7 linked regions of the Homo sapiens genome follow. The protein of the gene in region 5 purifies or fractionates together with the protein of the main gene of each other region. This does not show direct contact. Each region holds a gene or a part of one and is shown on either strand. Other genes may lie near its edges.

Evidence for each region.
Region 1: the proteins of ITGAV (region 5) and PTPRZ1 purify together in Homo sapiens (affinity purification with western blotting; 2 studies listed by BioGRID and IntAct, with this or other methods). This does not show direct contact.
Region 2: the proteins of ITGAV (region 5) and VDAC2 fractionate together in Homo sapiens (co-fractionation; one large-scale study listed by BioGRID). This does not show direct contact.
Region 3: the proteins of ITGAV (region 5) and PLXNA2 fractionate together in Homo sapiens (co-fractionation; one large-scale study listed by BioGRID). This does not show direct contact.
Region 4: the proteins of ITGAV (region 5) and OSTM1 fractionate together in Homo sapiens (co-fractionation; one large-scale study listed by BioGRID). This does not show direct contact.
Region 6: the proteins of ITGAV (region 5) and PTN purify together in Homo sapiens (affinity purification with western blotting, with the first as the bait; one study listed by BioGRID). This does not show direct contact.
Region 7: the proteins of ITGAV (region 5) and ITGB5 purify together in Homo sapiens (affinity purification with western blotting; 2 studies listed by BioGRID, with this or other methods). This does not show direct contact.

The regions. Positions count from the first base shown.
Region 1 is NC_000007.14:121,876,161-121,879,660, reverse strand, and holds part of PTPRZ1 (receptor-type tyrosine-protein phosphatase zeta isoform 1 precursor), read right to left. Parts: intron 1-3,500. UniProt on the Homo sapiens protein: Protein tyrosine phosphatase that negatively regulates oligodendrocyte precursor proliferation in the embryonic spinal cord. Required for normal differentiation of the precursor cells into mature, fully myelinating oligodendrocytes.
Region 2 is NC_000010.11:75,224,296-75,227,795, reverse strand, and holds part of VDAC2 (non-selective voltage-gated ion channel VDAC2), read right to left. Parts: intron 1-3,500. UniProt on the Homo sapiens protein: Non-selective voltage-gated ion channel that mediates the transport of anions and cations through the mitochondrion outer membrane and plasma membrane.
Region 3 is NC_000001.11:208,234,385-208,237,884, forward strand, and holds part of PLXNA2 (plexin-A2 precursor), read right to left. Parts: intron 1-3,500. UniProt on the Homo sapiens protein: Coreceptor for SEMA3A and SEMA6A. Necessary for signaling by SEMA6A and class 3 semaphorins and subsequent remodeling of the cytoskeleton. Plays a role in axon guidance, invasive growth and cell migration.
Region 4 is NC_000006.12:108,054,242-108,057,741, forward strand, and holds part of OSTM1 (osteopetrosis-associated transmembrane protein 1 precursor), read right to left. Parts: intron 347-3,500; coding exon 249-346; intron 1-248. UniProt on the Homo sapiens protein: Required for osteoclast and melanocyte maturation and function.
Region 5 is NC_000002.12:186,679,229-186,681,401, reverse strand, and holds the end of ITGAV (integrin alpha-V isoform 1 preproprotein), read right to left. Parts: 3' UTR 501-2,173; downstream 1-500.
Region 6 is NC_000007.14:137,337,234-137,340,733, forward strand, and holds part of PTN (pleiotrophin isoform 1 precursor), read right to left. Parts: intron 1-3,500.
Region 7 is NC_000003.12:124,796,866-124,800,365, forward strand, and holds part of ITGB5 (integrin beta-5 isoform a precursor), read right to left. Parts: intron 1-3,500.

The sequences.
Region 1 (3,500 bases), on a different chromosome or scaffold from region 5:
TCCATTTGAATTCAACTCAGTTCAAATATTTGCTATGTGCAGAGTTAAACTTGTGTAGCACATCCTCTCTAGGATTAATGATAAAACTATTGACAAACTCCAAAAGCACGTACATCCACATGATAAAACTGCACTTCCCATCATTTGCCTGGTTTTCAAAACTGTTTTGTGTCACTATCTCTTACGGCCTTCTTGACTAGAGAAGACTTAAACCAATATGATAGCTTTTGGCTGACTGAAAATACAGTGTTCATGGGCTCAAGATACTTTATTTACTCATTACTGACCATCCTGCATCCCTCATTGCCCTCTCCTCCCCAACACCAGAGCAGCACAGGCGCATGCACTTGTACACATACAAAGTGGCACACTAGCTGACTTGATGTTCTGGCCCCCTGGGATGTATCCAAAACTCATTGGTGCCAACTCCTCTAGAATTAAAAGCTCACTCAAGACTGCTTCTGTAAGTACACACTCAGTATCAATCACAGGAACTTTATTTTCCATGCACAGATAGTGTCTGGATCTATGTAATGCTTGTACAGGCATTAATCACATTCATGACAGCTCCAACCTCATAGAGGATGCCTATATGCTTACGTGTATTTCTGGGAGAATCAGTGAAAGTGAAGTTCGCGTACCAGAAGTGACATTAAAGATGGACAGGTCAAGGTGAATGCTGACCTTACTCCCGGACTGAGATCATAATCAAAAGAGGGAAAGACCAGTGAAAATTGGCCAGTCTCAACAACAAACAACTATTTTTTTTTCTAAGAAGCTTCATGGTACAATCTTTCTATAACCTTATACATTAAAGATTTATTGGCACCTACTGTAAGTGCTAAGTTCAAGAATGCAATGTTGACTGAATTTTTCATTGAATTCTTCAATGAATGAATTTAACAATGAATGAATGATGAATGTAAGAATGGATTCTTTACCCTCAAATAATGTGGTCGAGTCAAGGAGACAGATAAATTGAAAAACAATACAGTGGATAACAGAACAAATTATGGAAAATGTACTATGGGAGCAGAGCACTCACTCCCGAACCAGCAGTTAATCTCTTCTGTTCAACCTCAGTCCATAAAGGCTACAAAGTGGCCACTGAACTCTTTTCACCTATTACTGCTCTACCAAAGGCCCCATCATGTTTCTAGGATGTTTGCAGGCTAACACAACACAAACCATAACTAACTCACATGCACGAACACTTCAAACAATTTCAATGACTTTAGAAATTTTTCTAGTTGAGTTGATGACTCCTCATGAGTTCTATCAATCATTATTTTACCAGCGTTTTTTGTTGTTGTTCCAAAACAACACTGCCAGATGGAGATGTTCCATGTCTGCACTGTCCCATGTGATTGCCACTAGCCACACAGATTACTGAGCACTTGAAATGTGGATGGTGTGATTAGGGAACTGAATTGTTTTATTTTAATAAATTTTAAATTACATAGCTACATCTGCCTAGTGGCTATGGTATTAAACAGGACATTTCTAAAATACAAGTGTTTTAAGATTGTGCTATATGATATTTTTTCTTTCTTTAATTTCTTTAATTTCTTTAAACACAGAGAAAAATTGGTTTCCTTTTGTAATCTGAAGTTACTTCTAGGAATTAATCTCAATAAGACACTAAAAGTTGAAATACAATTTAAATGTATATATTTTATATATATATACACAAACACATATATATATATACACTTTTATGTATATGCATATATATACATTTATATATGTATATACACACATATCTCTCTCTTGTTTAAATTGGCTCTGACTTTTACCATTGGAATTCTTAATGGAGCAGGAAGCATTTTAAAGTATTTGAGAGTTAACATATTCAACACATTAAGAGATATTTGGAAAAGACTTATTTTCGACTAGTTGTGAACAGAAAAAGTATCTTTAAAACAAGATTTAAAGAAAGTTTTCATTGTGGGATTGAATCAGATTAACTGGGTTGTGAGCATCATGAGTTTAAGTCTCTGTATGTTGATGCATAGCTGAATTATCAGCGCCTAGCATGGTGCCTTGCAGATGTCGGGCACTTAGTGAACATCTAGTGAATGAGTAGTTAAAGTAGCATGGCTGGAACGATTCTGTATCTGGATCACAGTGATTGCTACATGACCATATGCATCGGTGAAAACTTTCAAGATGGTAAAAATGTAAATTATGCCTTAATTTTCAAAAAAGGATAAAAAAGTAATACAAGAGTACATGGGCAAAATCATGAAAGGGATCCTCAGAAAAGCAAATGGGACTGTGAAATGTACCATCACATCACATGAAAGCAAGCTAGTGAATGCCAAACAGCAAATTGATCCTGGGAATGAAAAGAGGAAAAGCCTCAGGCTCTGGATTGGGAAGGAATACACAGGCTGAATCAGGATTTGTGATGTTAGGCAACTTATCTGAGTTCTCTGTGCCGGGTTCCCTCATTTGTAAAAGGTGTAAGATGAAAACACCAATATCAAAGGGTTTTGAGGAGAATGAAATGAGAAAATGTACATAAAATGCTCAGTGCTGAAACTGCACCTAGTAGACACTTGAGCAGATGGTAACTGAAAATGAAACACAGGCTCATCTTCTTAATTATGCCTTCCTTTGAGATCTTCTGGTCCTGACTGAGGGGGTTCCATTTCCATGCAACAGTCTGAACGGTCAGCAAATGGGTGGTCAAGCAAATCTCTCACTTTAGACAGTACTCAAATCTTTTCGGAGTTAAAGGGAATGAGAAAACGCAGCTTATGCTTCCAGAAAAACCTGAATTTTTGCCAGAAGCAAAATTCCCACAACATAAAATTTTAAGCAAGATCTTGAATCTCTAGTGCAGACATGAGAGTAGAAATGAATTCATCAATGAAATGATTTCTCCTGGCAAACTTCCCTGACTGGAAGCAACCACAGTATACGTAAAAAGGAGAGAGAAATGAAATAAAGAAAATTGCAACTCTGCAATGAAAAGGAATTAATTTTCTGAATAGAGGCTAGTTATTATTTGGGAAAAAGGCATGAATATTTTTTATATGTGGTTACAATTTGTTTTCAGAGGATAAATAGATCAAACTGAGAGTCACAACATATTGAATTTCAGACTCTATAACCAGCATAAATTAAGAAGTTAATTCTTCCAGAGGAGTTGGGTATAATTTATTGTTAATGTGGCTCTTAAAGCAGTAAGATGTGACTGAGAAGTACAGAATCTGATTCATTACATATTTAATAATAATACTTAAACATTTGAACTTAGTGTACCTTGCAGCACTATAATTCACTTAATTCAAAGATCCTGAATTCCTTCATTAATTGGAAGAAATTATTCCTTAAAAGCTCTTAAAATATCTACCTCTCCTCTATGACTCATAGTTAAGCCTCCTTACAGGAAAGCCACTGTAGTTTTTCCCATAAGATACACCTGTTCAGTGGGTCAAGAAAAATTTGTTTTGGTTCATGTATTCTGATAAATTTTTTGTCTGGAAAGTTAT
Region 2 (3,500 bases), on a different chromosome or scaffold from region 5:
GGCCAAGATGGTGAAACCCCGTCTCTACTAAAACTACAAAAATTAGCCAGGCACGGTGGCAGGCGCCTGTAATCCCAGCTACTCGGGGTGCTAAGGCAGGAGAATCACTTGAATCCGGGTGGCAGAGGTTGCAGTGAGCAGAGCAGAGATCGCACCACTGCACTCCAGCCAGGGTAACAAAGTGAGACTCTGTCTCCAAAAAAAAAAAAAAAAAAAAATTCCTATTATTTAACAGTAAGAGTTAAACCATGAAACTGTGATAAGGAGTAGAAAAAATAAACTCAGTTTCTCCCTCTATACTCTCATAAGGCCTAGGGAGAATTTCCCACACATCAAGCAAACGATTCTGCAGCAGACTCCAGCTAGATGTTCTCTAATTCAATTCTGATACTATCTACCTGGAGAGAGAGCATCGGATCACACAGGTTCAGGGCTCAGTTTCATAAAACTGCCCCGCCCTCATTTTCAATGCTAACTGAAAGCTCCAGGTTCTTTTGCCTCTGCTTCTTACAGACTGGTTATAAACTGGGGTTCCCACAACCCCCTGGGGTTCAAGTAATTTCCTAGGGTGGCACACAGAACTCAGGGACTAACACATTTACCAGTTATATAGGATATTTTAAAGGATATAAATGAACAGCCAGATGAAAAGATACTTATATATCTTTTCCTTTATAGGTGAGGTCTTGAAGGGTCCCAAGCACAGGAGCTTCCATCCCTGTGGAGCTGGGGTGCCCCACCCTCCCATGACATGAATGTATTATTGTTTACCTTCCTGAAGGCCCCCTGGACTCAGTCCTTTGGGTTTTTACAGAGACTTCATTACAAAGGAGACTTCATTACAAAGGCACGATTAATTAAATCACTGGCCACTGGCTCAACCTTTAGCTACTATGCCCTCCCCAAGGCAGAAGGTTTGTTCCCTAGCAACCAGCACCCCCTACCATGTGGCCATCTAGGGACTATCCAAAAATCACCTCATTAACATAAGTTCAGATGTGGTTGAAAGAGGCCTGTTAAAAATAACAACATAGCCCAGGGCGCAGTGGCTCGTTCCTGTTACCCCGGCACTTTGGGAGCCAAGGCAAGTGGATCACCTGAGGTCAGGGGTTGGAGACCCACCTGGCCAACACGGTGAAACCTCATTTCTACTAAAAATACAAAAATTAGTCGGGCTTGGTGGCAGGCACCTCCAAACCCAGCTACTAAGTAGGCTGAGGCACGAGAACTGCTTGAACCCGAGAGGCGGAGGTTGAGGTTGCAGTGAGCAGAGATGGTGCCACTGTACTCCATCCAGCCTGGATGACAGTGAGATTTCATTAAAAAAAAAAAAAAAAAAAAAAACCCACAAAAGACTGTCTTTCACTTTTATGCTCTGGAGCTGTTTCAGGAACCGAGGACAAATGGCCAAATATCTCAACAAAATACACTCTTACGGCTCTAGTCACTTGGGAAATTGCAAGGGTTATAGAAGCTGTGAGCCAGGAACTTGACAAAAACCAAAATATATACACCATAGTATCATAGGCCACCCCCTGGTTTCAAACAGGGATCCCTTACAGCAAAAAGGTCCATATATCTGTCAAGGATGTTTACACTTGTTGCATTTATATAACAGACATATCTACAAGAGTACAAACACAAATATGCCTATCATCTGGAGAAGCTACTGTGGGATAGGGATAGGTTTAAAGAAGCAACTAGGATGGGCGCAGTGGCTCACACCTGTAATCTCAGCACTTTGGGAGGCTGAGGCGGGCGGATTACCAGAGGTCAGGAGTTTGAGACCAGCCTGGCCAACACGGCGAAACCTCATCTCTACTAAAAATACAAAAATTAGCCGAGTGTGGTAGTGGGCACCTATAATCCCAGCTACTCAGGAGACTGAGGCACAAGAATGGCTTGAACCCAGGAGGTGGAGGTTGCAGTGAGCCGAGATCACGCCACTGCACTCCAGCCTGGATGACTCCGTCTCAAAACAAAACAAAACAAAACAAAAAAAACCTACTCGGTCCTATGAAGAGAAAAAAAAATAGCTCAGCAGTATGAGGAATGTGAGGTATGCAAAGTTTATCAGGCCCAGAGAGACATGAGAATGAGACTTTAGTCACAGGACACACCCCCATGCCTAGGGGAAATTGTTTAAAAACACTTTGTTCTTTTTTTCCTTCCTTGTAGTTTCCAGGCTCGCTGGCAAATATCTAAAGTGTTACTGCACAATGTGACCCTCACCCATTATCTTCATGTTCCTGGAATCTGTGATACAAAGAACAATGTATAGCCAATCACTAATCAATGTTATTTCTGTAAACCAAAGAGAATTCCTGCCAAACAACTTTGTATCAGCCCACATCCTGTCCCGAATTTTTGGCCTTTAAAAACCTGTTTGTAACAAGGGCCAAATGGAGCTCAAATCCACTTGGATCTGAGTCTGCTGGGCAGCTGTCCTCATTATGGTGCAAATAAATTCTTTAAAATTGTATTTTGTGCCTTAGTTTCTTCCTTTAGGTTGACAGAAGCCATTAGAAACATCTTTATCATCTTGTACCAGCTTTCTTTTCCCTTGATCTACTGTTATTTGTACCTTGTGCAGAACTATTCAGGATGGAAATCAGCTGATAGTGAGATCCAGTTCCTCCTCAGGCCAGTCACTTTCCATAGGTATTATATCCTGAGGAGGCTTCAACTCAATTTCACAATACATATAATCATCAATCAGTATTATAAGACTTATTTACACAAGGGAGTTTAATCTGCCAACAATATTACCATATGGCAGTATGAGCATGGTACAAAAAAAATCAGTTTCGTTACAGATCAGTAAGAATTAGAGATATTTGCTTTGCCTTTCCAACAGAAATCTACCCTTCCCCATTTGTCAGCCTTTATCTTGATTAATAAGCCTGACTACTGCCCCAGGCAATTTCAGATCACATTTCTCAATGTAATCTCTAACTTCTGACTTTTTAAATTTCTCCAAACTGGGCAAAATACAGCAAATACAGGTCTTAGGGGTACTTTTTACCCTTGCAAGGTGGCTTTGAGGCTGGTGGCCAAGGCTTAAACCAAATGAAACCTGAGCTTGGTCTAGCATCAAGGTACAATCCAGCACTCTTTCACTTTGATTTTAGCTATCACAAATAACAATAATCAAGGGATTGTATATTTTGTTTGTTTCTTATTGTTTGCGTTTCCTTATGCACCCAGTGAACCAACTCCCTTGGAGTTGGATCTATCTTTGAATTCCACTGGTAATTTTTAAGTACCTGAGCACAGCACAGTTGTGGCTCCATAGCAGGGGTGACCATCTGACCACCCAGGAGTCAAAAGTTCCTCATTTCCCATCCATTTATCCTTTTTCTTCCTAAACCATGCTTCGATGAGCCACTCTAGCTAGAGCCACTCTAGCAAATCCCAATCCTGACATCAATTCTGAGGATACAGAAAAAAACCAACTCAGTTTCTCCTACTATTCTCTCACAACACAGAATGCTTCTGTG
Region 3 (3,500 bases), on a different chromosome or scaffold from region 5:
GCTGACCCCATTTTCTGCAGCAGGCTCTTGGACAGTGCTATGGGATGTTTAGGACTCTCCTCTCACAGGCCCCATCCCGCACTCTGCATTTCCAACAGGGACAAAGCTCCTTGTGTTGCTTGGGGAGCTTCTTGGCCTACTAGAAGACAGCTAATGCTTCTCCCCAGACATCCTGCTAGGTTTTGACCGATGATCAGTGCTACCAAGGATCTGATCCCTGAGCCCCAGCGTCCAGCTTGGGCTCCTGGACTCCACTCCTGCTAACACACTCTGTGATGTGTCTGCTCCATCCATGTCCCTGCCCCCAGGAGCTCTCGTGAGATGCCTGTCTGCTCAAAACCAAGGAAGAGAGAGATGGGGGAGGTCACTGGGCACAGTGCAGGGGACAAGAGACTGGAAAGAAAAGGTAGCTAAGTGGGCAGATCAAGAGAGTGTGGCGGGTGACGCTGGGGCAAACAAACCTCCTAGCAATTGGAGGGCAGTGAATGGCAGCTTGCTGTGTGACTCACGGCAATGCACTTACCCAATTTGGACTTGGGTTTCACATCCACTATGTGGGCCTGGGTAAAAGCTACTCTGTGCAGGAGAGATGCAAGCCCTGTTGCAGCCAGGCAGCCAGATACCCATGAGCTCTGCGTTTTCTTATTCCATGAAGGGTTGACTCCCACAGCAATGCCAACCTACCAATCCTACGACAGTGTCATTCATGTACACTCTCAGAGCTCTGAAGGCACCAAAAACCCAAGGGCGGCAAAGGCAGAATTCAAATTCCAATCCCACTGGCTAAATGCTGACCACAAGCCCTGAATGTGGTCTCCTTGCAGGGCCACTATTGGCTTTCTTCTCTATGTCCCATCTCCACCAAGTCTTCAGCCCTTTATTCTTTAGCATAGAGATTTTCTTTAAATAAAATCTTACTTTTCTCAGAAAATTCCAAACAAATTTGGAGAGAGAGGGGGAAAATAACCCTAGTTTCGCTTCTTATACCTGTCCCAAAATTTAGAATAGTTTTCCTTGTTTCCAGCACTTGTCGTTTTTCCAACTTTCCTAACACCCTCTTCCCGGGCCTGGCTCCAGAAACAAAGACAAGTGAAGGTGCTTGAGTATTCATTCCATTATACAGATGGAGAAACCGAGGTGCTGGGTAAGGGGCAGGAGCCAATTCTGCCAGAGCGTAACTAACCTCTTATCTCCCTCCTGGGACCAGGGAACAAACGGAGGGTGAGCACCGGTCAACAGGTGAGAAATCTTTAGGAAGTGGGAAGGGCTACAAGTGTGAAGGCAGGCACTTAGTTCCTGTTTGATTCTTTGACACCAGGCTCTTCCTGACCATCTGCTCTCAACCATCTCAGTGGGGCCTAAACCTCCTGCAGGATTGTGCTGGGAGGGGCTTCCAGCTCCCCATGCAGTTCAGATCTTTCTCTCTAAGTCTGTGGGCCAAGAAAGCTGAAGAACTTGAAGAACTTGACCCCCTGTGGGTCACTCAGAGTGGGGCGGTAGACTCAAATTTTGTTCATTTACAGATAAACCTCAGGGGGTGGGGTGTTTGCCTTACAGAAAACCTCGTAGCCTGGGTTTTAATGTCACAGAGAGTGAAGGGACTTGTTAGAAAGTTTTAAGCAGCTGGAGTCAGGGTGGGGCATCAGTGTTGTCAGGGCACTGTGAAATCCCAGCCGGCCCTGCTCCTGGAAAACACCACTGCCCTAAAACGTGGAGTGGAGACCTGGAACGAGAGCTTTGCTGACTCACGAGGGGCCTCCTGCCTGTGGACGGGGAAGGAGCCTGGGTCTTCCTGTCTGGCTTGGGCTGGGCTCCCGCTAAGAACGCTGTTCTCAGTGAAATTCAAAAAATTGGCTCTTCTCCTTCAGGTATTTTTGTTCCTCAGGAGAAAAAAATGGGAAACCGGGGAGCAGTCAGGGGAGGTGGGAGGTCAGAGGCCAACGTAATATTTACCCAGCCTAGCCGAGGCCTTTCACTTTTATGAAGCAGGAAACCACTTCAAAGCAGCAACATCCCCTCTTGCCACTTCTGTCTGCCCGCTGGTCCTGCTGCCTCTATAAGGCAAGGCAGGGCTTTTCTACACACCCCTTCCTCTGCTCCTGAACCTTCCACCCTCTCTCCCTTAAAGGGTGGAGCACACTGCCTGGCCGGCTGCTCCCTCTAACCCCTGCTCAAAGGTAAAAAGACCTGCCCATAGTCACAGAGCAATCACAATCCATAGGCTCCGCTGACATTCTGAGCTGTCCCTGGCGTGTTCTCGTTCACTCAGTGAGTTGTCTACCACTCTCAGAAGCACTGGGGTTACAGCTCCTCATCCAAAGCCCTGTTCCACCACCAGAGCAGAAGCGGAAATGACGGCTAGGAAAGGCTCTAGAGACTGGAATCTAGTGGTTCTTTACATTGTGGAGGGGGCAAGAACTCCTTCTCTTCGGAAATACAAGACTACACATACCCACATCATTCTTGAAGATATAGAATCTCCAAGGTTTCACAGGCCTCTTGAAGCCCAAGTATGGCCCTAGCTCTGTGCTTCCCAGTGCAGGGGTCAGTTCCCTGACAGCATCACTGATGTGGCTCCCCCAGCCTCAGACGAGGTGCAGGGAGAGCATGACCTTCCTTTATAGGATTAGAGACAGCCTTTGAGTTGAAATCTTCGTCCTTCTAACCTTTCTCCATTAGCATCCCTTACCCTCTTTATGGACAGAAAGCTTAAAGCAGAATGGCTACCTTCTCTTTGAGTTGAAATCTTCATCCTCCTAACCTTTCTCTATTAGTATCCCTCTACCCTCTTTATGGACAGAAAGCTTTAAAGAGATTGGCTCCTTCTCCAGGTAGCAAGCACATGGCAGAGGCAGCCCGAGGAGTGGACAGCCAAGGTGTAGGGATAAAATCCAAATCTTCCCTCTCAGGTCCTTCCATTTAATAACTTCATTCAGATAAGAGTAGATGCATAATAGCAGGATTCTGGACACTTAAATGTGAATGTGGATGAGTAATAATATTTCCTGAGGCACCACACTGGCCTCTACACGCCAGCTCCAGAAGTACCAGAAAGGGATGCAATTTACATAGAATACAACACGAAAATCCTTGGGAGTGTGCACCCTGGAGTCCTTGCCGTAGGATATTGACTAATAGAAAACAACTCCAGCGCTGTCCAGTTTAAAATCCTCAGAGAAGAACGAGGGGAAAACTGGGTAGGTACGGGTAGCTGTGAGAGGCTGGAGACTGCGAGAGCATTAAATAGTCATCCTTCTTCACAGGAAACTGTGAAGTTCTCCAGCACCTCTGAGTCTCTCCTGGAAATCTTCACCTCCCATGACTTAAAGCAAAGGCTTTGAGGAGCTGTCTGCTCTCACTTCCTCTGACCCCCTAGTACACACTGTTAATGCCATTCTGCCTTTTACTAAAGGTATTTGGGGGTACTTGGCTATGCAATTTCTTCCTCCACTCCCTGAGTGTACTGTAAATGCCCTGAAGGTAAGATCTATTACTTTTTC
Region 4 (3,500 bases), on a different chromosome or scaffold from region 5:
AGATTCTCATTACAAAATACTTTAAGATAGGCAGGATAGATATTATCTCCATTTTACAATGAGAGAACTGAGGTTTTCATGATTTGTAAGTAGAAGAACTTACTTAAGAGCAGAAATCCAGGTCCACTAACTCCTTTACATCATGAATTTAGATAAATATCAATAATTAGTGCTCTAAAAACTTGGAACTGCACATTATTCCTTTGTACAAGGCAGCATTTTAATTTTAAATATTATATATAAAATACCTGAAGGTTATGTTCAAAGCAGGTCAGGGTGTGATTAAATAGATTAAGGAAATATACTGTGCTGTTTGATAATTCTTCACTGTTGTTTGTTAAACAATCTGTCAAAAAAATTCAAAAAGTATATTAATATAACTCAAGGAACAATTCTATGTTGTCATTTATATCTTAAGCTATCAGCTTCGTTTCACACTACAGTAATTCTTTATTCAAACAAGCATGAATTTTCCAAATATATGAAGCTTACTCCTTTTATTTTCCAAAAGTTAAAAAAGTCATAACCATTTTCATGAACATGTTAAAATAATCACATACTCTCTTTTCATAAAAATATACCAAATAAAATTCAAATGGACTTTTGATGGCACAAGGTCATAATCACGGAATATCAGCTATCAAATGCTGCCTTAACAGTGCTATTTAGGCATAAGACTGTTTACCCTGCATTAATTTTACCGAAACTCATATGCCTTATCATTTTTTGTGTCAAATTTCATAGTTCTCTGCATCTTCCAACTTCACTAATGAGTCATTTATTGTACCTAATGGGGTAACTTTTAAAATTCGCTCTTTCTAATCCATCACGAGTTGGGAGCCCAGAGAAACAAACTGGTGAGAATTTTGCCTAAAATACTGACGTGGGGGCTTCAAGTAAAGTCTAGAAACAAAATTGTTTTACATTTTTAAAAATCCTACATAAATGGTATTTCTCTGCAACTGGCTATTCTTGCTTAGAGTTAGCTCAAGTTCACTCATCCCTTTTATTTTCTATGTATGTGTATATCACAATTTATGTATCCATTTTCCCTTCTTCAGGGAATAATCTATTCTTCTTTTTTTTTTTAAGAAACGGGGTCTTGCTCGGTTGCCCAGGCTGGAGTGCAGTGGCACAATTTGCCAGCTCATTGCAGACTTGAACTCCTGGGCGCAAGTGATGTTCCCACCTCAACCTTCCAAAGTGCTGGGATTACTTAAAGGCATGAGCCACTGCGCTCAGCCAGGGAACCTAGTCTTTATCCTCAGGTAAACCTTTGTCTTTACCTCTCCTTGTGTTCTCAGCCTGCTATCTCCAATCGAGGTTCAACTGCCTGGTTCCAGATCTTGGAACTTGTGGTCAGTCGTTTCCATCTGACTCTCCTAGAATCCTTGCCCTCTTTATCTTCCACATATTCACAGCCATTTTCATCCCTGGACAGTCCCCATCTACTTTCTGTACTCTCAGTCTGGTTACAGAATACTACTACAGAAATTCTAAAATGATAATGAAGGGACTCAATTCAAATTCATGTGTTCTGATCTCGGGGCAACAAAATGATCCTTGTAGATGCCCTCCTAATTGCTCTGCAAGGGATGTTCCACATATTTTCTCATCTCTAGTCCCAGCCCTACTCTTGTTCCCCTTAATTTCAACAGATGGCTTTGTATTATGCCCACCTTATTTAGAAATTCAGGGCCATCAGATAGGATCTCTCTCAACTGGAAGTGGAAAGACAACATGCAAAGCTATTGCAATTACCCAGGAGAAAGGCAGCAAGGCAAGTAGAATTTGTGGAGAAAAGAGAGACGGACTAGGTAGACACTAGGATATGACACACTAAGGGACATCCATGTACTCTGACAGACAACAATTACTACAACGAAAGTTAACACTTACTAAATACTTGCTATGTTCTAAGAACTATGCTTACACTGCACTTTAAACACATTTGCCCATTTAATTCTTGCAGTGATTCCATGAGGGAAAAATTATCATTATCTCCATTTTATAAATAAGGAACAGAGATAGGTTTAGATAAATTAAGGAAGTTGCCCAAGGACATAAAACTGGTAAGTAAAAAGCTAGACTCTGTACTCAGTCTGATTCTTGAGCCTGCACTCTCAAACACTGCAAAATAAACATATTTATATCTACATTCTAAACCATTAAAAGTTCAAGACTCGGAATCTACAAATACATGCCACTGCCTACTCCCTCCACTACCCATAGATATCTTACACCATACAGGGATTCAGGCAGTCCCCACCAACTGATCAGAGTTAGCAACTGAGATGAAACCTAAACCTGGTAGACAGGGGCAGACAGCACAGTAAAGCTCCTTTGTGCAAATCAGAAAAAGATATTCCCTCTGGGTAGATAAATTACAAAAGGTCATTCCTGCCTCCAGAAGCTAAGCTGGAATTCAGCCCCATTCACCTCCTTGTACAGCCCCCTTGTGCAGGGCTCCTTCTGCACCCATTGTACACAGGATCCTCTTGGTAAACCTATTTCAGGAGTTGTCCCCTCTCTGAACTCACATACTCTACATTCTCTGAAGCTTTATCTTCTCCAGAACATGAATCTCATTCTAACTTCTCACCCTTATTTAAAAAATCTGAGGGATCACTACAAATTAGGAAACTAAGCCACAGAAATAGGTGATATGCTGATGATCATACCACAAGTTAATAAGCCATTGATATAAAAATAGGCCAGCATGGTGGTTCACACCTGTAATCCCAGCATTTTGGGAGGCAGGTGGATTGCCTGAGTCCAGGAGTTCGAGACCAGCCTGGGCAACATGGTGAAAACCTGTCTCTACAAATAATACAAAATTAGCCAGGCATGGTGGCGTGCATCTGTGGTCCCAGCGGCTTGGGAGGCTGAGAGGGGAGAATTGCTTCAGCTTGGGGAGGTCGAGGCTGCAATAAGCTGTGATTGCGCCACTGCATTCCAACCTGCATGAAAGAGTAAGAACTTGTCTCATTGCCCCTCTTAATGCTAGTTTAATATCATCATGAAGTAGCCCGCAATCCTTTTAGGGATGAGGCAGAGTTGATATAAATAAAAACAAACAATTACATAGTTTTTGTACATGTTTACAAAAACAATTATATAGTTTTTGTAGTTGATGTGTTGCAGGGAAGTTAAGGGAACACAATTTCATTCACAACAGTTGTACATCTGTGTTATAATGAGCTATGTCGTGACAACTGACATAACAATATAGGGATAAAAGGGGTCCACATACTGCCAGCAAAAGTAGTATAAAGTGCATTATCATGAGAGAGCAATAGCAAATTTCTTCTATGCAAGATACCTAATTAAAACAAATAATTTCTTTTGCAAAAGCAATTTATAAAGAAAGCTTCTCTGAAGAACAAAAGAACTTAATTTCTTTTATTAATAATTACATTAATGCATTACCATCAAAACTTTTTCAATGATCATTAGATGGTGGTAACATAAAGCATAAAGCAGTTCATTTATATAATGGG
Region 5 (2,173 bases):
CCATAGGAATTTACGGTGGTGTATTATGCTACTTCAGTATAATTTCCCAAGCATCTCAACACTTAATTTTCTTCTTGGTACTTTTCATTTATAAAAATAGGTATTTTTATACTAGAATTGCATATGTATATTGCAACTGCATATATGCAATGACATATATACACTATAATTAAAAATTATAAAAGATGTAAATGTGCATTTTAAAAGGAATCTGATAATGTAAAAATAATAAAGGTTAGCATAATGAATTTAGAAATGTTTGTTTAGAAATAAAATAATTCTTATATTTCAGGCAAATACATATTTGCCTTTCTAAGGATGAATTTTAATGTGGTACATTTTGCTCTTTTTGTGTTTCTTTTCATCAAATAACTGACATTCAAGATTTGAAGTTTTACAGAAAGTTACCTCTGAGGTCATCCTTTTAGTGCATTATTGCTAGCTCATGTAATCAAAAAACAAAAACACGTCACAGAAAGGATAAACCCCATACACAAAAGTGGTACCATATGCTTATGTTTATTGTACAGTCACAAGTTACATGTTGTAAATCAAGCAGAACACTGTACCAGTTTTCACTAACTCAAATCAAGTTAGCAAATTACAAATTTTAGAACAGATTCATTTTCTGTCTCACCCAATGTGGGTGACCACAAAGATATTTACTTTCTATGTTATTAGGTAGCAAATTAATTTGATATACTACACAGCTTCCAAGTTACCTTAGGATATTTCAAAGTGTTTCAAAACTGGTAAAGAATAATTCATTTCCAGCCTGAAATACAATGCAGAATGGACCATTTAGGGGTAAATAACCTCACTTAATCACTCTTTCCTGCTAACAAAAATAATACAAATATTTGTTTATATTAGGCTTACTAAATTAATGACAACTTTGAAATTATCTAGATTTGGTTACATTGTTATATTGCACTTGAGAACAATGACAAAAAACATCAAAGATTCAGTACCTCTCCCAAGAAGTTCATTATATATCAGAAATTAAAATGAAATATAAGCATATATTGCATGCTGCATATTTCTATCGTTCAAACCAGCCAACCAACAAACTAAAAGGAATACTCTCCAAAACACTGAGTATTAAGTAATTTCATCTGCCTTTTTTGATCCTACAATCATTTTTCAAATTTTAGGTGTTTTTCTTTAAATTATTCATCAAACTACTACATATACAAGCTATCCAAGAATGCAAACAAGGTGACATTGAGATGGGTAGTGGCTGCACATAGGTATTCCAAGAACGACTCATTCTTCTCCACCAAGCTCATCATTACATTTTGCAACTTAGGAAGATCTGCCAACTTACAAATTCTGTTTGCCTTACAAAAATCGCTGATCTATTATATACAATACTTTTATCACACAAATCTCTCCCTTAGGGTCATGATTCACTATCAAAAATCTTTCACAGCCCTCTTAAGCCAGTAAAGTCTCTTTTATTAATACTTGAGTTTTCTTTATGGAAATGTAAGTGTTAATGAGAATTAACTATGAATAAGTAGTTTCATAACACAGGTAGAATGATGGCAATAATATTTTGACTAATTGTTTTACCTTTCAGATTCAGAATTACAGTGATAATCGTTAAGAGAAAAGAGAAACAGAAAAAATGACTCACATGTATTTTTCTCAAAATATCAATTCTGAAATAAATACCTATATAAAAATCAATATCAGTATCAATATTTCTTACCAATGTCAAATGTTTTTAATATCTTCTAGTTCATTCATGTTTTCTTAAAACTGAATCAGATCATAAAAATTTTACATTTCAAAATGGATTTTTATTCTCAATAAATCACAAATATGGTAGTATTTCAAATGTTTTAGAGATTTAAAGTTTTCATAGGGCAATTTTTTGATATTTAATCATGATAAAAAAAAATCCCACCATTTTCTTCAGAAAGTAGGCTTTCAAATTACTCTTCTCCATATTTTTGTAGATATATAAATGTTCATTTTTTGAAGGAAAATCTATGCTATTATACAAAACTATATTTCATAAAGGTAATTTAAGATATCATGTTAATTTCTAAATTACAGCATCTTTCAATCTCCAATACAAGATTACTTTCAAGATAGATGCCATAAAAGGAATAGATGGCACAAAAGCAAATTCTAACACTTTTGCCAAAGAGTGACTTTCTATCCA
Region 6 (3,500 bases), on a different chromosome or scaffold from region 5:
ATTTGGGGTTTGACATGAGAGACAAATGGGAGATAAAATCTATTTATTAGCCTAAGAAAGAGATGGCATTATATTACAGAGGAATAAACTCAAACTAGGAATTTTAAGACTTTTGTTTTCATATCTGTATGTCATTGAATATGGCCCCCTTAACTTCTCTAAGCCTGCATTTCTGTATCAATTTTTTAAAAATCCCACTCAATCTACCTGAGTAGAGTTACAAAAATATGATGAAAAAATAAATGTGAAACATTTTTAAAAACAGGCCTTATAGCTACATAGAAGTTATAATGAAAATAATGCTTCAAATTACTAGCTTTGTCACTTTGAATAATATGGTTTGTTAAAGAAGAGGTAAGTAAGGTTTTCTCCATTCTGGAGGTAGTCTTGAATCGGCAACTATGAAAAGTTTAAAATTATCAAGGTGAAATATGATTAGGAAGACACTGTAGAGAACCAGCAAGCCTATATGACATTTGTAATGAAGGGAGTGAAGGAAAGAGAGTGGGAGAAGTTTCTGGAGGTTCAAAGTTGAGAATGGGAATGCTTGGGCTTAAACAGGAAATTGGCACCAGGTTGTTTGGTAAGGCAAGGGGATTAGGCATAGAACACAGATGGTCAAGGTGGGTGGAACAACATGGGCAAAGAGAATGAATGGCATTTAGAGCTGCCTATTTTCTCACTCATTTGCCATCTTCAATGGTTCTATGCTAAATATGCTAGGGTTCTTGAGAGAATGAGAGACAGCCCTTGCCTTAATAGGGTGCACAGGTTGGATGGGGTGGGGCTGGTGTCAAATGGTGAGAAAGGAGGAGCTGAAGTCACTATAAGGGGTGATGGGGAGACTTCGAAGACAAGGGAAGAAATATAGCTCCACCTAGAGGGGGCATTTGCCTTGGAAAACCTTTGGTGCCTTCAATTTCCGACTCAAGATTTCACCCAAATTCCACAGCTGAAGTACAAGGATTTGCCTTCTTTCCCTTCATGTATATGTTTTCATTAAAGGACACTCTTCTCTTCTGGTATAAATTTTCCTGAAAAGGACATCTACAGGGAGTGCCATGTCTTAAAAATTATATTGATTCTAAATAAACTCAGTCTGAATTCTTAAGTTGTCACTTCCAATAATTTGTTTCTGCTACGTTATGTGGCAAATGTGAAATGAAAACACGAAGGAATCAGGAGTTCAATTTCCCTTCCAGAATAAACAGCATTAAAGGAACAAACAGACATAATGCTTTTGAAATAGACGTTGCGTACCATTTAGCCTTTTGTGAGCTCCACTTTCCTTTTTCTCATAAAAATGTGATCCCTTTGTCATTGGAACTGCTTAGGGCAACAATTGTACATATCTTCCTCTAACCTGTGTTGTAGTAATTAGTGTTTTAATGTTCTTACATATATATTGAGTAGATCATTAGCTGCTTGAAGACATATTTATTTGTCCTGTTTCCCTCATCACACTACCTACCATATAGTATGTCAGTCACTATGCGTAAAAGTCTGGTAGGGATAAAAATAAAATAACAGGAAGTCCTTTACTTCAATCTCCTCCTCCAAATAGAATTGTGCCTGAATGATTTCCTTCAGTATTCATTGAAAAAATATTAAAAATGTGAGTCCAGAGCTCATTAGAGAGAATCTTCCTTCAATTCTCTTCAGATCTGAGAATTTTCCTTGTGAAGGAGTTAAAGCTCAAAGAAGAGTTGTGACAATACTAAAGCATTTGGAGAGGAGAGAGGAAGGCGGGAAACTGAAATATTTGGAAATAAATGTACACATTTGGAAGACAAGAAAAAAAAAAGCAAAACAAAACATGAAAAAAGGAGTGCCCAAAGAAATTAGGAAAACATTAAGACAATAACATATCAAGGAGGTTACAGTATGAGATAATCATAAAATGTTGGGATTAGCAATCTGTGACTTTTAAAGCATCTTTTCCAGAGATGGGTGAGGGTATAATGGATTTTAATTGAGATCTCCTTTAAATACATTTCTAATAAAGAATTTCACAAGTTCACACCACGTACCAAACACAAAGTATTAGATATTGTGAAACCATAGAGATAGACACCATGTTCTATTTCTTAAACATGCTACATTGTCCAGCACAATGTAGTATTAGGCATCCAACATACGTACAATAAATATTGTTAAATTGGCTGGCCACAGGAGCAAGAAAAATTGTATTGTTGGAGTAGGACCCCGAGACGATGTGATGGACATGAGTAACTCCAGCTGCGCCTCTACATTGATGTTGGGAAACTGAGAAGAGAATGAGGTCAACATTGCAGTGATGAAAATGTTGCCTGACCCTTAGGCAGGGTCTTGAATCAAAAAAAAAAAAAAAAATGGGGGAAAAATGCCATTGAATCAGTAGAGAGGGCACTGGTGTTGAAAACATCAGCTAGGAAGGTCCAAGCTTCCAAGAATGCCAACATATGGGCAGGCATTCCTGGTACATCCGTACATAGAGAAATGTATGCCATCATAGCAAGAGGGAATTGGGCAAGACGTTCTGGGACCTGTTGGGTGGGAAATAGTGGCAACCAAATTAATGGAGAAATGAGAGAAAAGAAGGAGAAATAGGTAAATGTAAAAGCAGGAAGAAAAGGGAGCAAAGGGTTAGAGACAGAATGCTATTTGTGTTTTAAAATTATGTTTTAGCTTTTGCTAAGAGCAATTCTTAGAATTAAGAGCCCAATTATCAGTTACTATGAGTCACTTTTTTCAAGATTAATATACAGCGCTTGATTTTTTGTTACACTATGTGTGAAGTTGAAAAAAATCTAAGACTTCTATTTTTAGAAAACTGGATATGATTTTTTTCTGTTTGAGATATCACTTTATCTCAACCCACTCTGAAAAAATGGTTCAATAAATAAAGCCTAGAAAAATGAATTAAATTTTATCCCTAAAAATATCTCAAACATGAAGGAGTCATTGTATTCCTTGTCCACCCTGAAGAAATAGAGATTTGTGGTGAATGTGATCTACATAATTAAGTCCACAATATTCCCATATTTATAATACCCTCTGATAGTGTTCCATCATAGCTACCCTTTTAAGATACTGTTTTAATTTCTTATTTACTAAATGCCAAAATAGAAAGAAAAAGAGGTTTGTTATATTTTACAATCTAGAAATATTGTAATGACACCATGAAAACTATGCCGCACACTAGACTGGCTTGAAGTGGATGGAAAAATAGCCCAGTGGGTGGAAACTTGAATTGTCCATAAACATCAGAAGGAAAAACAACTTTCCACGAGGCCATGGCCCAAATTCCACTTAAGCCAATTGACTCTGGATGGAAAAAAGCAAGCCCAGCTCATAAAAAGAAGGTTCATATCTGAGTATCATCTTACTTCGCCTCCCACAGCAGTGACATGACCTTGTGCCAGAAGGAGGCAAAAACTCTTCGACTATTCATTTAGAACAGAAGCCAGAGCTAAAAACATTCCTCACCCTTATGGAGAAGCCCAACTCAACATCACTAG
Region 7 (3,500 bases), on a different chromosome or scaffold from region 5:
CTCCCATTCACCCAGGGGCAGGGCCCTTGATGAAGAGCAGCTGCGAACTCCAGCCCTCTCCACGCACTCAGGTAGAACCACCAAGATGGCCGGAGTAGGAAGAGACCTCAGAACCAGCAAGCTCCCATGCTTCATGGAGAAGAGAATGCACAGGTGAGCTCACATTTGACAGGTGAATTCTTTAACATTCATTATCTCTTTGCATCCCCATGACCCTGAGGAAATGGGCCCCTGCGGAAAGCTATAGGGCTTCCTTGAGTTCACACAGTTCTTATTCTCCCTTTCTTTTCTCTTCTGTCCTATCCTCTTCCCAGCCCCGCTGCAGATGCCTCTTCTCTGCTCACTTAAAAAGTCATTTGGTGGAAAAACATTTCCTGGGCGCTGCCTCTGTGCCAGGCACAATGGCACTCTCACAGGGTGCCGGGTGAAGGGCACCCACCTGGCCCGCCATAGAGAGGGCTCTGTGCCTGCTGGCAAAGGGCTCAGCTGACTCCAGAGCTTGCTCTCCAGACACCCCCGAGTCCCCCGTGCCCCAATTCCTCCTCTGTGAGTGCTTGTCATAGCTGCATCTTTCACAATCCCCCCATGCCCCTGAGGTCTTAAAGAAGAGTCTCCAACTGATGAAATGCACCATGCACATGGACAGACCTTTTCTTTTTAAACAGAATATGTAAGGAAGTGTTTCTCACTCAGGAGCTTCTCACAGATTGCCTTGAAAACAGGCTCAAGGTGGGCCTGGATGGGTGGCAGATGGTGCGGGAGGGATGCCTGTCAGCTGCCCACAGGGCTGGGATGGAAGGAAAGCAAGAATGAGGCTTGGTCTGATTCAGGAACTAGAGCCTGACTCCCCCACCCTCTCCTCCTCACCCCCCTGAGGAGAGCCATGTGGGGTCTGAATCACCCATCAGGGCCCTGAGAGCAAGTCACTGTGGATTCTATGAAAACGCACAGACAGGTGGCCAGTGTGCCCTGATGAAATGCCGTTGTAAAGTTTTACTCAGGGGTGGGTTCTCCCTTACTCCCTGAACAGACAGAGGCCCGGCCCACCCCACAAACAGACTCACTGGATCTGGGTCCAAATGTCTTTATTTTTCAAAAGGCTCCTCAGATCATTCTGAAGCTCAGAATGGGTTAAAAACCACTTTCAGCTATTACTATTCTTAATTCTATTCTTTCGGCTAGAATAAAGCTTTTTTTTTTTTTTTTGAGGTGGAGTCTCGCTCTGTTGCCAGGCTGGAGTGCGGTGGCATGCACTCAGCTCACTGCAATCTCCACCTCCCGGGTTCAAGCCATTCTCCTGCCTCAGCCTCCAGAGTAGCTGGGATTACAGGTGCGCGCCACCACACGCAGCTAATTTTTGTATTTTTAGTAGAGATGGGGTTTCACCATGTTGGCCAGGATGGTCTCCATCTCCTGACCTCGTGATCTGCCCACTTCGGCCTCCCAAAGTGCTGGGATTACAGGTGTGAGCTACTGCGCCCAGTCATTAAAGCTAATTTTTAAAATGTCATCATTCACTTGATTTACTGGACAATCTTCAGGTAACAATGTTTTTGTTGTTGTTGTTGTTGTTTGAGACAGAGTCTCTCTGTCACCCAGGCTGGAGTGCAGTGGCACCATCTCGGCTCACTGCAGCCTCTGCCTCCCAGGTGCAAGCGATTTTCCCATCTCAGCCTCTCAAATAGCTGGGATTACAGGTGCCTGTCACCATGCCTGGCTAATTTTTGTAGTTTTGGTAGAGACGGAGATGGGGTTTCACTGTGTTGGCCAGGCTGGTCTCAAACTGCTGACCTGAAGTGATCCACCCGCCTTGGCTTCCCAAAATGTTGGGATTACAGGCGTGAGCCACTGCGCCCGGCCCACGATGTTCATTTTTTGAGAACATTATAAATATCTGTTTCTAAACATACAGATCCCTATTACTTTGAGATTTTTACTGGTTCTAAAAGGCCTCCCCTCAGATGCTGTGACATCTAGGGACACGGGGAGAGGGGAGAGGGTATGGGACTGAGCAGGAGGATAGATCCTGCTCTATAAGTCCTGCAGAAAGTCCTGCGTGGCAGCAAACTGCTGTTTCAAAGGACTTGACAACAGACACCCAGGACTCAGCATTAGCCAAGAGGCTCAACAGGAGAGGCTTCTGGATAGGTGAGCTGAGGATAGCTAGGGGAGCAGGATCAGAAGACACTCGGGGGACCAGGCCAGCTGCAGACAGCTTGGGCTAGCTCCACCTTACCTTCCATCTCTGTGGGGTAGGAAGAGTAGGAAGAGACAAAGGGGAGAGATTGACAAAAACAACTCCAAGGCTAAGTTCCAAGGTCTCGAGGTACAGGGAGTCTCTCAAGGTGAGTAAAGATTCAATCCACTTGGACACTGAAATTGGTTAAAGGATAACACGAATAGGATGGGCGTAGTGGCTCACACCTGTAATTCCAGCCCTTTGGGAGGCTGAGGTGGGCAGACTGGGAGGATCACTTGAGGCCAGGAGTTCGAGACCAACCTGGACAACATGGCAAAACCCCATCTCTACCAAAAGTACAAAAAATTAGCCGGGCATTTTGGCACATGCCAGTGGTCCCAGCTACTCAGAAGGCTGAGGTGGGAGGATGGCTTGAGCCCGGGAGGGGGAGGTTGCAGTGAGCCGTGATCGTGTCACTGCACTCCAGCCTGGACGACAGAGTGAGATCTTGTCTCAAAAAGAAAAAAAAAGCAAAACAAAACACTAATAATTATTAGTTGCCAAGTGCCTACTATGTACCAGGCACTGTGCTGGACTTTTCCACAAGCATCTCTTTTAAATGCCCTAGAAGGAAGTGTCCTCATTTTACCAGAGAGAAAACAGGGTTGGCGGGGTTGGTGGATTTAGTCATGCTCACACAGCTGATGAGTGGGGCCAGGCCTAGAGCAGGGCCCGCGCTCTCCTTAGCATATCCACCTCCTAGACGGGGGAATGAGGTCTACCTCATCGGGGTGCGCAGGGAGAGCCAGCCTGGCTTACTAAAGGGACCCCTTGATGGTGATCCCCAAAGTGGTGGCCAGAGGCATCTCCACATCTTTCTGCCGTGGGCTGGGAACGATTTGAGCCTGCAGATAGGATAAGAGTGGGGACTATGCCTGCCCGAAGCCACCCGTGGGGCCATCAAGAATGCAGAGGTGAATGGAGCTTTGAGGGGCAGATGCCATCCCTCCCTTCTGAGGCCCAGAGAGAAACTTGCTTGCATCTCCTATTACTATTTGCTTGAAGCTCCCACAACAGTGACATGCTTGAAGCTACCTGTAGCTTGCTTCAAGTTACAGCTGAAACCCTGTACTTCTAGGGCTACAACTTGCTGGACTTGTGCTCCACAGAGGCATCTGCGGGTCAGAAACTGAATAAACTACAGAGGAATGACCTGGACCAAGAGCCAAAGGCATTTAATTATTGAAAGACTGTGGGGAGTACACACCTGTGAGTATAACCTTGTCTCATGGAAACTTGCCTGCCTTGGGGTTAAAGCAAT